2 separate regions of the Homo sapiens genome follow, and region 2 is reported to be linked to region 1. The links are microRNA targets in miRTarBase. Many come from high-throughput screens and were not tested one by one. Region 1 holds a microRNA gene; the other region holds the end of a gene's coding sequence.

Region 1 (5,375 bases):
TTGAGGTGTCGGAACTGCAGGCACTTTGAGAGCTGCAAGTGCTGCCCGCTTCCCACTGCCTGCTGTCTGGGCCTTCTCCCCATTGTGCAGGCAGGAACGCTGAGGCTGGAGGGGCCTGTCCATACCACCTCCTGTGGGCTTGGGACCCCTCTGCTCGGCTCCCGTGGAGCTGCCCCCTGCAGCGGTGCCCGGGCCCTTCTCAGCCCTGTTCCCCCCCAGGTTCATCCTCGATGACTCCGCCTTGTACCTGTCCGACAAGTGTGAGGTGGAGACCCTGGACCTGCGGCGAGGTGGGCAGGGCCGGGACTGGGCTCCCTCCCCTCTGAGGGACCACCGCCCCGGCCACACCCAGAGCAGCCAGGTGTCTCCCCGCAGCTGCTGGCCGGGTCCTTAGCTCCCACACGTAGCCCGCACAGCAGGGACTACACCTGGATCAACCGGATCCTTCCCCCAGGTGCTGGGGCCGGGGCCGGGTGGAAGGGGGCCACAGGACCTTTCTCTCGCCTCTGCTGCAGATTATGTCTGTGTTTTGGATGTTGACCTCTTGGAACTTGTGATTAAAACCTGGAAAGGGAGCACCGAGGGCAAACTGGTGAGTGAGGCTGTCACTCTGGCTCCTGGAGCCACAGCAGGTGCAGGGGCCAAGGGAGTCTTCAGGGGCTGCTGCTCCCTCACGTGCCTGGGCTCCGGACACAGTTCATGCCTGCCCTTCCTGGGCTGCAGTTAGCGCCCCTCCTGCAAAGGGCCATAGTACAGCCCTGGTGGGGGTGTCCCTTGATGCTGGCTGAATGAATGAATGGGTTTCAGCCCTGCCACCAGAGGACGCGGCAGCCAGGGCACCAGCGAGGCCCTGGGAATCAGCCACCTTTGTAGGTCCCCGGATTCATCTCCTGTAAGATGGAGATAACCTGCCCTGCCTCGCTAGGCATGCAGAGCCCTTCACGGGGAGTGGGGTAGGGTGGGTGGGCACACTCCTGCTTCCTTGGATGGCCCTGGGCCAAGCCCCTTTCACCCTCTGGGTGAACAGTTTGTTCATCTGTTCAGTGGAGTTACTGGGCAGGTCATCCACTCCAGGAGAGACCATCCCTGTTCTGCCTGTGGCAGGATCAGAACTGCGGTGCCCTCCCAGCGAGCGGGTGGGGCCAGCAGGCAGTGGCCCCTGTGTTCACATAGCTGCTCCCCCCACCCCGCCCCTGCAGAGCCAGCCACTATTCGAGCTGCGCTGCTCCAACAATGTGGTACACGTGCACAGCTGTGCCGACTCCTGTGCCCTGCTGGTCAACCTGCTCCAGTACGTAATGAGCACAGGCGATCTGCACCCCCCACCCCGGCCCCCCAGCCCCACGGAGATCGCCGGCCAGAAGGTACAGGTGAGGCCTGGCCACACAGGCTACCAGAGCTCGGCCAGGCCCCTCCCCTGCCATGGCCCTCGGGCCTGGGGTTGGGGGAGCTCTGTCCTGTCTCACTCATTGCTCCTCCCCTGCCTGGCCCAGCTCTCGGAGAGTCCTGCCTCTCTGCCCTCGTGCCCCCCAGTGGAGACGGCCCTCATCAACCAGCGTGACCTGGCCGACGCCCTCCTGGACACCGAGCGCAGCCTACGGGAGCTGGCCCAGCCTTCAGGTGAAGTGGGGGTGCTGTGGGGACAGCAGACACAGTCAGGCACCCACTGTGGGCGCCTCTCCAAACTGGCCTCTCTCCTATAGGTGGCCACCTCCCTCAGGCGTCGCCCATCTCCGTCTACCTATTCCCAGGTGAACGGAGTGGGGCCCCACCCCCTTCACCACCTGTCGGGGGCCCTGCTGGCAGCTTAGGGTCATGCTCAGAGGAGAAGGAAGATGAAAGGGAAGAGGAGGGCGATGGAGACACCCTGGACAGTGATGAGTTCTGCATCCTTGATGCTCCCGGCCTGGGCATCCCGGTGCGTGGTGGGAGGGATGGACCAGTTTGCCGTCCAGGCAGGTGTGTTTGGAGCGGGGACGGAACACTCAGGGGTGGTTGCCTGGCCATCTGGAGCTCCCGTGGTGAGAGAAGCAGGCAGGAGGTGGTTGCCATCACCTCGGGGGTGGTGCTAGGTCTGTGCCACCCTAGGGAGGCAGCCCTGATGCTGGGCTTTGATGGAGTAGGGGGATTTCCAGAGGAAGAGGAGGCCTGGTGTTTTGGGCAGAGGGACTGGGAAATTCAAGGGATGGAGGAAGAGGAGAGGGCAGTTAGCAAGAGGGATGGAGAACCATGTGGCTGCAAGGGCCAGTGGGAATGTCTGAACTCACCCAGGTCTTAGGAGGCAGGGCTGGCAGGAGCCTGGCATTCTCAGGCTCCTCTTGGACAGACCACTCAGGCATAGACTCGGGTGATAGCAACCCAGGAGTGTCATCTTTCATCAAAAACAGGGAGGAGGCCAAGCATGGTAGGTTACGCCTGTAATCCCAGCAATTTGGGAGGTCAAGGTGGGAGAATTGCTTGAGTCCAGCAATGAGAGATTAGCCTGAGCAACATAGTGAGACCCCGTCTCTACAAAAAATAAAAATAAAATTAGCCAGATATGGTGGCACATGTCTGCAGTCCCTGCTACTCAGGAGGCTGAGAATGGAGGATCGCTTGAGCCTAGGAGGCAGAGGTTGCAGTGAACTGTGATTGTGCCACTGCACTCCAGCCTGGGTGACCGAACATGACCCGACCCTGTCTATAAAAAAAAAAAAATGAAAAAGAAGTGAGGCCAGGTTGCTGGGGCTGGGGGCAGCTGGGCTGGATCGAACATCTGTGTCACACGTCTACCTGGCCTCCCTGCAGCCCCGAGATGGGGAGCCTGTGGTGACACAGCTGCATCCCGGCCCCATCGTTGTGAGGGACGGTTACTTCTCACGGCCGATCGGCAGCACGGACTTGCTGCGGGCACCTGCCCATTTCCCAGTGCCCAGCACTCGGGTGGTGCTACGTGAGGTCTCCCTCGTCTGGCACCTCTATGGGGGCCGAGACTTTGGCCCCCACCCCGGCCACAGGTGAGGAGGAGCGGGTGCAGGTGGCAGCTGGTGAAGGTTGGGGCTCAGGCTGGTCCAGGTCTGACTTTCAGCAGCTGGAGACCTTGAGCCCCATCCACCCCAGGTGGGCCTCAGTTTCCTCATCCTTCCTTATCCCGCCTGCCTTCCAGGACTGGGGCTAGCGGGGGTCTCTTGTCCCAGGCTAAAAGGCCCGCTGAGGACGGGGAGGGAATGGGGTTCCTCTGAGTCAGCTTGGCCCCTGTCCCTCTTCCCAGGGCAAGAACTGGCCTCTCAGGTCCCAGGAGCTCCCCTTCCCGCTGCTCTGGCCCCAACCGGCCCCAGAACTCATGGCGCACGCAGGGGGGCAGCGGGCGGCAGCACCATGTCCTCATGGAGATCCAGCTGAGCAAGGTGAGTGGGGTGGCGAGTGCCTACTACACGTGTGTGTCATAGAACAACGGGCCTTGTTCTCGATGTCACGTGTAGCAATGACTAATGCAGAGGAAAACCCCTGCCTTTGTAGTGGAGGAAGCCAGGCAGGGACCAAGATGTATCGAGTGTGTCCGATGGTGAAGAGCGCTCAGGGGAGAGTCTGCAGGGGTGGAGGAGACAGGTGTGCTGGGGAGGGTCTGGAAAGTCCTCTTCTGAAGGCACCATTTGAACAAAGACCTGAACAAGTGGGGATGTGAGCCAGGAAGAGTTTTCAGGCAGAGAGGACAGCGTGAAAGCCGCAAATTGGGGCCAGGCATGGTGGCTTATGCCTGTAATCCCAGCACTTTGGAAGGCCGAAGAGAGCAGATCACCTGAGCTCAGGAGTTTGAGACCAGCCTGGGCAACATGGCGAAACCCCATTTCTACCAAAAAAAAAAAAAAAAAAAATTAACCATTTGCAGTGGTGTGTGCCTATAGTCCCAGCTACTCAGGAGGCTGAGGCAGGAGAGTTGTTTGAGCCCAAGAGGCAGAGGTTGCAGTGAGTTGAGATCGCCCTATTGCATTCCAGCCTGGGCAACAGAGTAAGACTCTGTTTCAAAAAAAAAAAAAAATGCTGGAAGCTGGAAGCATCCTGACATTTCCAGGAGCAGCAGAGCCTGTGCATAACCAGCGACCCAGAATGTTTCTTTTGAGTCTTACAAGAGACGAACCCCTCAGGGCTTTTGAGGAGAGGCCTCTGTGGGGTGGGGCTCTGCAGCAATCAGGGAGGGCTAGTGAGCAGGTTCAGGAGAGCCTAGATGGGGGCTGGCCACAGGTTCAGCTGCGGATGGGGTGTGTGAGATACAGAGAGTGGTACAGAGGGTTCAAGGTTTGGGCCTGGGAAATTGCCTGGGGCAGGGGGGTCCCACTTGCTCAGAGTGAGCCAGGCCAGTGCTGGGCTTCCCAAGGAGCCGCTAGAGGCAAAGGGCAGAGGGGCCTCAGGCTGCTCGGGTTGGTGGGCTGTGCTGCAAGAACCTGCGGGAGATGAGTGTCAGAGCAGGGGGCCAGGGGCCTCTCTGAGACCTGATGGCCAGCCAGCGGGTGTGCAGGAAGAGGGGGAAGGAAGGCTCTCCACGGAGAGGGGCTACGAGAGCAAAGTCCTGAAGGCAAAACAGGCCTGGACTCCTTGAGGGGCAGAGACCAGTGCAGCTGGCATGGGAAGCAAGAGCAGGGTCAGGTCTGGAGGGAGAGGCAGGTCCCTGCTGGGCATAGAATAGAGAAGGGGTAGGGGCCGGGCATGGTGGCTCATGCCTGTAGTCCCAGCACTTTGGGAGGACGAGGCAGGCAGATCACTTGAGGCCAGGAGTTCGAGACCAGCCTGGCCAACGTTGTGAAACCCTGTCTCTACTAAAATTAGCTGGGTGTGGTGGCACATGCCTGCAATCCCAGCTACTGGGGAAGCTGAGGCAGGAGAATCGCTTGAACCCGAGAGGCAGAGGTTGCAGTGAGCCGAGATCACGCCACTGCACTCCAACCTGGGCGACAGAGTGAGACTCTGTCTCAAAAAAAGAATAGAGAAGGGGTCTGGGGCCAGCCCTTCCCTCCCTCTTGGGGCCCTGCTTACCTGGCCAGGCCTCTGTCCACCCCACAGGTAAGCTTCCAGCACGAGGTGTACCCAGCGGAGCCAGCCACAGGCCCTGCGGCCCCCAGCCAGGAGCTGGAGGAGCGACCGCTGTCCCGTCAGGTGTTCATCGTGCAGGAGCTGGAGGTCCGAGACCGGCTCGCCTCCTCCCAGATCAACAAGTTCCTGTACCTACACACGAGTGAGCGGATGCCGCGACGTGCCCACTCTAACATGGTATGAGCGACCTGCACCATCCACCCTGGGGCAGGGCACCAGACCGTTGGGGATACATCTTCACGCATGCATGGATTCACACACATACACGCATTCCCACACAAACACCCAGGTTGTTTGTGAGCCTGGGA
Region 2 (5,375 bases), not on the chromosome of region 1:
ACCACACCCAGCTTTTTAAAATTTTTGGTAGAGACAGGGTCTCACTATGTTGCCAGGGCTAGTCCCAAACTCCTGGGCTCGTGCGATCCTCCCACCTTGGCCTCTCAAAGTGTTGGGATGCTTTTTGATGCAGAATATTGATTTATAAAATACTGTATCTTTACTGTCCCTTCAGAGTTCAGCTAAAGAAACGTGCTTTTAGGTTTTAAAAACAGTCCCGATAATTGCATCCTCCAGTGGTCCTACTTAAACTGAAAACAAGGTATTGTCTTCTTTTTCACAGCAAGACCACACAACACAGAGGTGTTGGATGAAAACAGCAAGCCCTTTTCAATGCAGCAGTCCATAGAATGCCTCTGTCAGAATCAAAGACTAAGCTTAAGAGTTCCTCGCATATATCGTTGTGCACAGGATCAACATGATGGTGACTGGGAAAAAATTACTTCAAGTAACATGCTTAGCTTTCCCTCCTTAATGTGAAAAATCAAGGGCTTACTGACATAGGAACAACAGAAATGCTCCTGGAACTTCAAGTTGCTGAATTATAAGTTTATTTTTTATCAATAAATATTTTTATACTTACATTGAGTGATGTGTTTAACAACAAATTGTGACAGAGCTGAGTGCTCCTATCTTACAGGGTCAATGAACTACTTATTAAGCCTTACTGGTAGCACTGAATTTAGCAGTTCTGAGAACATGTGAAACTATGTTAAAACTGAAGGCACTATATATTTTTACATAAAAGCTTGAACATACAGATGAATTATAACCTATGTGAAGAAATCTTAGATATAAAACTAACTTTTCAAAGATACAAAAGAAATTAAACAGGTTTCCTGAAATTTTAGTTCTTGGTCTGTTCACCTCTGTGGGGAAAATTCTTAGTTCCAGTGATAACTGTTCTAGTTACTACTTTTAAGTATGTAAATACTAGAAAGGTAGTACTAGTGACATCATCACGTGTATTGTTATCTATGGGGCAAATGTGTGGTGCCCAGAATAAAATATACCTCATGCCTAGGGTAGGGACATCCTTTCCAGCTCAAACGTGGGTAGGGATGTGGGAGAATAAGAATGTGGGAGAACCAAGAGAAAAAGTGGGGCTGGGAGAGTGGAGTTCCCGTAGGGCATAGGCCTGTGAAGTAACACTGGGGCAGATATGTATGTTATATACAACTATTTTTTTAAAAAACTTATATCCATGTTGGGAGTAGATGGGTATATAACAGTTTGGAAATACTATCTTTGGAGAATGTATTTTTGTATTTATAAATCAACTTTTAAAAACTGTCTCATTCAAAAGGGAATAAAGACCTGTGTTATCAATGTGTCATTTTCTTCTTTCCTCCATAACTGTACCTTGAAACCTTACTGCTGACCTGCAGAAAATGTGCCGCGTTATGTACCTGGCTCATCTTCAACACACTAACCATGAACACTAATAGCCATTAGGGGACATGGCTACAGATACTACATTGGAAAGTTGTCTTTAATCACACAGGTGTTAAACTCAATATAAATTTACCTAAAAACAATTGCTATACCTAAAAGGAGTTCTGGGTACTAAGGGTAGAAGCCTCACTGGCTACAGTTTTTTAATAGTACAAAAGTCAAGAAATAACACAATAGTGACTATAACCTGTATTCAAATCCCTACTCTGTCACTACTTGATCTGGGCTGATATGGTATGGCTCTGTGTCCTCACCCAAATCTAACCTTGAATTGTAGCAATCCCCACGTGTCAAGGGTGGGACCAGGTGGAGGTAACTGGATCATGGGGGCGGTTTCCTCCATGCTGTTCCTGTGATAGTGAGCCGGTCTCATGAGATCTGAAGGTTTTATAAGCGTCTGGCATTTCCACTGCTGGCAGTCATTTTCATCCTGCCGCCCTGTGAAAAAGGTGCCTGCTTCTCCTTTTTCTGCCATGATTGTGTAAGTGTCCTGAGGCCTCACCAGCAATGCGGAACTGAGTCCATTAAACCTCTTTCCTTTATAATAATTACCCAGTTTGGGGTATTTCTTCGTAGCAGTGTGAGAACAGACCATAAACCTCCATTTTCTCATCTGTTAAATGGAGATAACAGTCCTGGCTTAACAGGGCTTTTTGAGTTAAGTGATATATTCCACGTAACCTGCTTAGCATAAGAACTGGCACTAGAAACAGAACATTTTAGATTATGGAATAGAACTTAGGGGAAAATAGCAAAGTCTCTGATCATCTTGAACTACTCAATTGGGACTTATCCCTGAATTAAACCTTTCTAGTAGCTGAAGCACAAGAAAATAAACTTGGAAAGAAAAAACCTAAGGCCAGTCATGCACTGCCCTACTTCCCTTTCTTCTCTATTGCAGGTTAACTATGGCCTGTAGGCAGTTTTTCTTCTCTTTTTTTTTTTTTGAGACAGTCTTGTTCTGTCACCCAGGCTGGAGTGCAGTGGCGCGATCTTGGCTCACTGCAACCTCTGCCTCCCAGGTTCAAGCGATTCTCCTGCCTCAGCCTCCTGAGGTGGGATTAAAGGCACTTGCCACCACACCTGGCTAATTTTCTTTTCTTTTTTTTTTTTTTTTTTTGCGATGGAGTCTCACTCTCATCATCCAGGCTGAACTGCAGTGGTGCAATCTCGGCTCACTGCAACTTCCGCCTCCCAGGTTCAAGCGATTCTCCTGCCTCAGCCTCCCAAGTAGCTGGGATTACAGGCATCCGCCGTTACACCCAGCTAAGTTTTTGTATTTTTAGTAGAGACGGCGTTTTACCATGTTGGCCAGGCTGGTCTCAAACTCCTGACATCGAGTGATCCACCCGCCTCGTCCTCCCAAAATGCTAGGATTACAGGCATGAGCCACCGCACCTAGCCGGCAAACTTTTTTAAATGGTTGGCGGGGGTGGGGGAAATCAAATGAGTAATGTTTTGTGACACATCAAAATTATAATGATGTGCTGCATAACTTTTGGTCAACAATGGCCAAATATACGATGATGATCCCGTAAGATTACAATGGAGCTGAAAAATTCCTATTGCCTGGGGACACAGCCATGGTAACATCATAGTGAAATTACTTTATGTAGCCTAAGTATATAGTGTTTATAAAAGTCTACAGTAGTGCACAGTAATATCATGGCCTTCACATTCACTAACCACTTACTGACTCACCCAGAGCCAGCTTCCAGTCCTGCCAACTTGTTCATGGTAAATGTCCTAAATAGGTGTACCATTTTATATCTTATATATATCTATATATATATTTTTACTGTACCTTTTCTATGTTTAGATATGTTTAGATACACAAATACTTAGCACTGTGTTACAACCGCCTACAGTAATCAGTACAGTAATATGCCATACAGGTTTGTAGGTTAGGAGCAATAGGCTATCCCATATAGGATACCATAGGGTATACCATCTAGGTTTGTGTAACTACATCATGATTTTCACACAATGATGAAATTGCCAAGTGACATGTCTCAGAACATATCCCTGTCATTAAGTGACATATGACTATATATGAAACTTAACAAATCAGGCCTTGTTGAAACACAGTCATGTTGATTTGTTTACATATTGTATATGGCTCCTTACACACTATCAACGGCAGAGTTGTGTACTATAGTTGCAATACAGACCATAGCCAACAAAGTCTAAAATGTTCTAGCACTTCACAGAAAAGGTTTTTTGACTCCTACTCTACTGTTTCAGTGTCACTGACCCATTTTACCTGGACCAAAGACTACTCAAGTCTATTTTCCTCCAACTGACACAAGTTTCTGCCTCAGTGTATGGAGGTTTTCCTCAGTAATAGGAAACTGGAAAAATTAGTCAACATTTATTGAGTGCCTAAATGACTACCTATTTAGTATACCTGCTGATTTACTTGGCAGGCTTTTCTCACTATACTGCAAGCTCCTTGAAGGCAGAGATAATTTACTTGAGTGGAACCTGGCACAACGTAAGTGCTTTAGAAATTGAATAAGCCAAGTAAAATGTTTTAAGGCAACCCTATCCCAAAATATTCCTGAAGATATTAATTTAATCATTACTAATCTCTGTGATTAGCAAGGGAAGTAGTCAGTCTGGCACACCAAATTTTATTAATAATACTTATTTTAATCTGTTCCCTTTAGTATGTCTTTATACAGTTCCCCTCGTGTATATACACTGATATAACTACAATTTAAAAGCCACTAATTAATCTGTTTTTTATTTTGTAAGTAACAAGATATAGACATTTGAATGCCAATGTCTTATTCTGGAGAGACACTGGAGCTGAAGTTCAACAATGATCACACTTATTACCTGGCAATAAAAACACAACCATCTTTCCAGTCAGGTCAAAATATCCTACTTTTTGCCTTTCTACCAATTCCCAAACATTCACAGTTTTTCAAGGACCACTAATAAAATACAGGAAGCTTTTAAAGACAGTAAGAGAACACCTAGTGTAAGTTAGGTGAATTAAAGATGGCAAAGGAGATTACATCCTCAACACTGACAGCTTCCAAGACTTAGAAAAGAGATTGTTCCTTGCTTCTAAAATTGTTCTATTTTCCTCTGTAGGAAAATGAAAGTTTTTTCTTACAAATATTAAATAATCAAAGTACTTACGCAAAATTAATCTGCTCCTCAATGAGATGAGCACTCCATTTAAATGATCTTTACAGATCCCTGAAGTTGCTGTCCTGTCACTGTATTTAAGTGATGGATATTCAATTGAATTATTCTGCATAAATAATTCTGTTCAACCCAGAAGTATAGTAGTATGATGGGTCAGATACAGTCAACTGTTCAATAAAAATGCAGATGTCTGAAATTATTAAAATGTACTTAAAAGTAACAAACTGTATCACACACTTAGGCTTAGAAGTGTTCTTTCAAGTTTTTTCTTTTAAAAAAGAAACCAGTCTTTGAAGATTTTTGTTGAATATAGCTATTTTCCAAGCTTCATCTTCTTTTTCTTTGGTCCATTAAGGTCCATGTTTGAAGTATCAGTAGGAATGCTTATTCCTGGTATCTAAAGTAATGCAAATGGGGGGAAATAAGGTGATTTAAAGGATAGAATACATCTCAACCTCATCCTCCCCTTCCCCACTGCCAGCTTCAAATTTAAAAGGATGTAGTGGTAGGGAGGGGAAAGGGGGCTAATTAAAGGTTTTATACACAGAAGGTATTTTACAAAGTAGCAGTGGTTCAAAAATGTAAAAGCTAGACATGGTCTCAACAGGTGAGAAGCATGTCATTTAGGAAGTGTTCTTTTTAACTACAAAACAGCCTTCCCAATGGGGAGCCACTGTGATTGACAGAATCAGAGTTGATTTCAAGTGTGTTGGGGAAGGACAAAAGTTAAGAACCAGTATCTTAGGTGAAACACCTACACT

What was found. The annotated mature microRNA hsa-miR-6749-3p reads CUCCUCCCCUGCCUGGCCCAG and lies in region 1 at 1,473-1,493, shown strand. An mRNA with a match to its seed (bases 2 to 7 or 8) in the 3' UTR can be bound and repressed. Matches are read on the target gene's strand: a 7mer-m8 pairs with bases 2 to 8, a 7mer-A1 pairs with bases 2 to 7 and ends in A, and an 8mer does both.
Region 2: the mRNA of DIS3 is a reported target of hsa-miR-6749-3p. Seed matches in the 3' UTR shown: 7mer-A1 at 3,746-3,752, 7mer-m8 at 2,813-2,819, 7mer-A1 at 1,790-1,796, 7mer-A1 at 1,346-1,352 and 7mer-m8 at 87-93.

What each region holds. Positions count from the first base shown.
Region 1 is chr11:64,898,505-64,903,879 of GRCh38, reverse strand. MIR6749 (microRNA 6749) reads left to right here and starts at 1,425; the gene lies at 1,425-1,493. ATG2A (autophagy related 2A) reads left to right here. Exons shown (of 41, transcript NM_015104.3): 25 at 220-290; 26 at 516-592; 27 at 1,200-1,364; 28 at 1,494-1,620; 29 at 1,704-1,918; 30 at 2,788-2,996; 31 at 3,251-3,386; 32 at 5,038-5,244. RefSeq lists an enhancer at 3,430-3,559.
Region 2 is chr13:72,754,868-72,760,242 of GRCh38, forward strand. It overlaps DIS3 (DIS3 exosome endoribonuclease and 3''-5'' exoribonuclease), which reads right to left. Exons shown (of 21, transcript NM_014953.5): 21 at 1-5,011. The coding sequence ends at 4,928. It overlaps BORA (BORA aurora kinase A activator), which reads left to right. Exons shown (of 12, transcript NM_024808.5): 12 at 284-1,329. The coding sequence ends at 349. Among named protein-coding and RNA genes, the nearest start is that of DIS3, 24 kb to the right of the region's middle.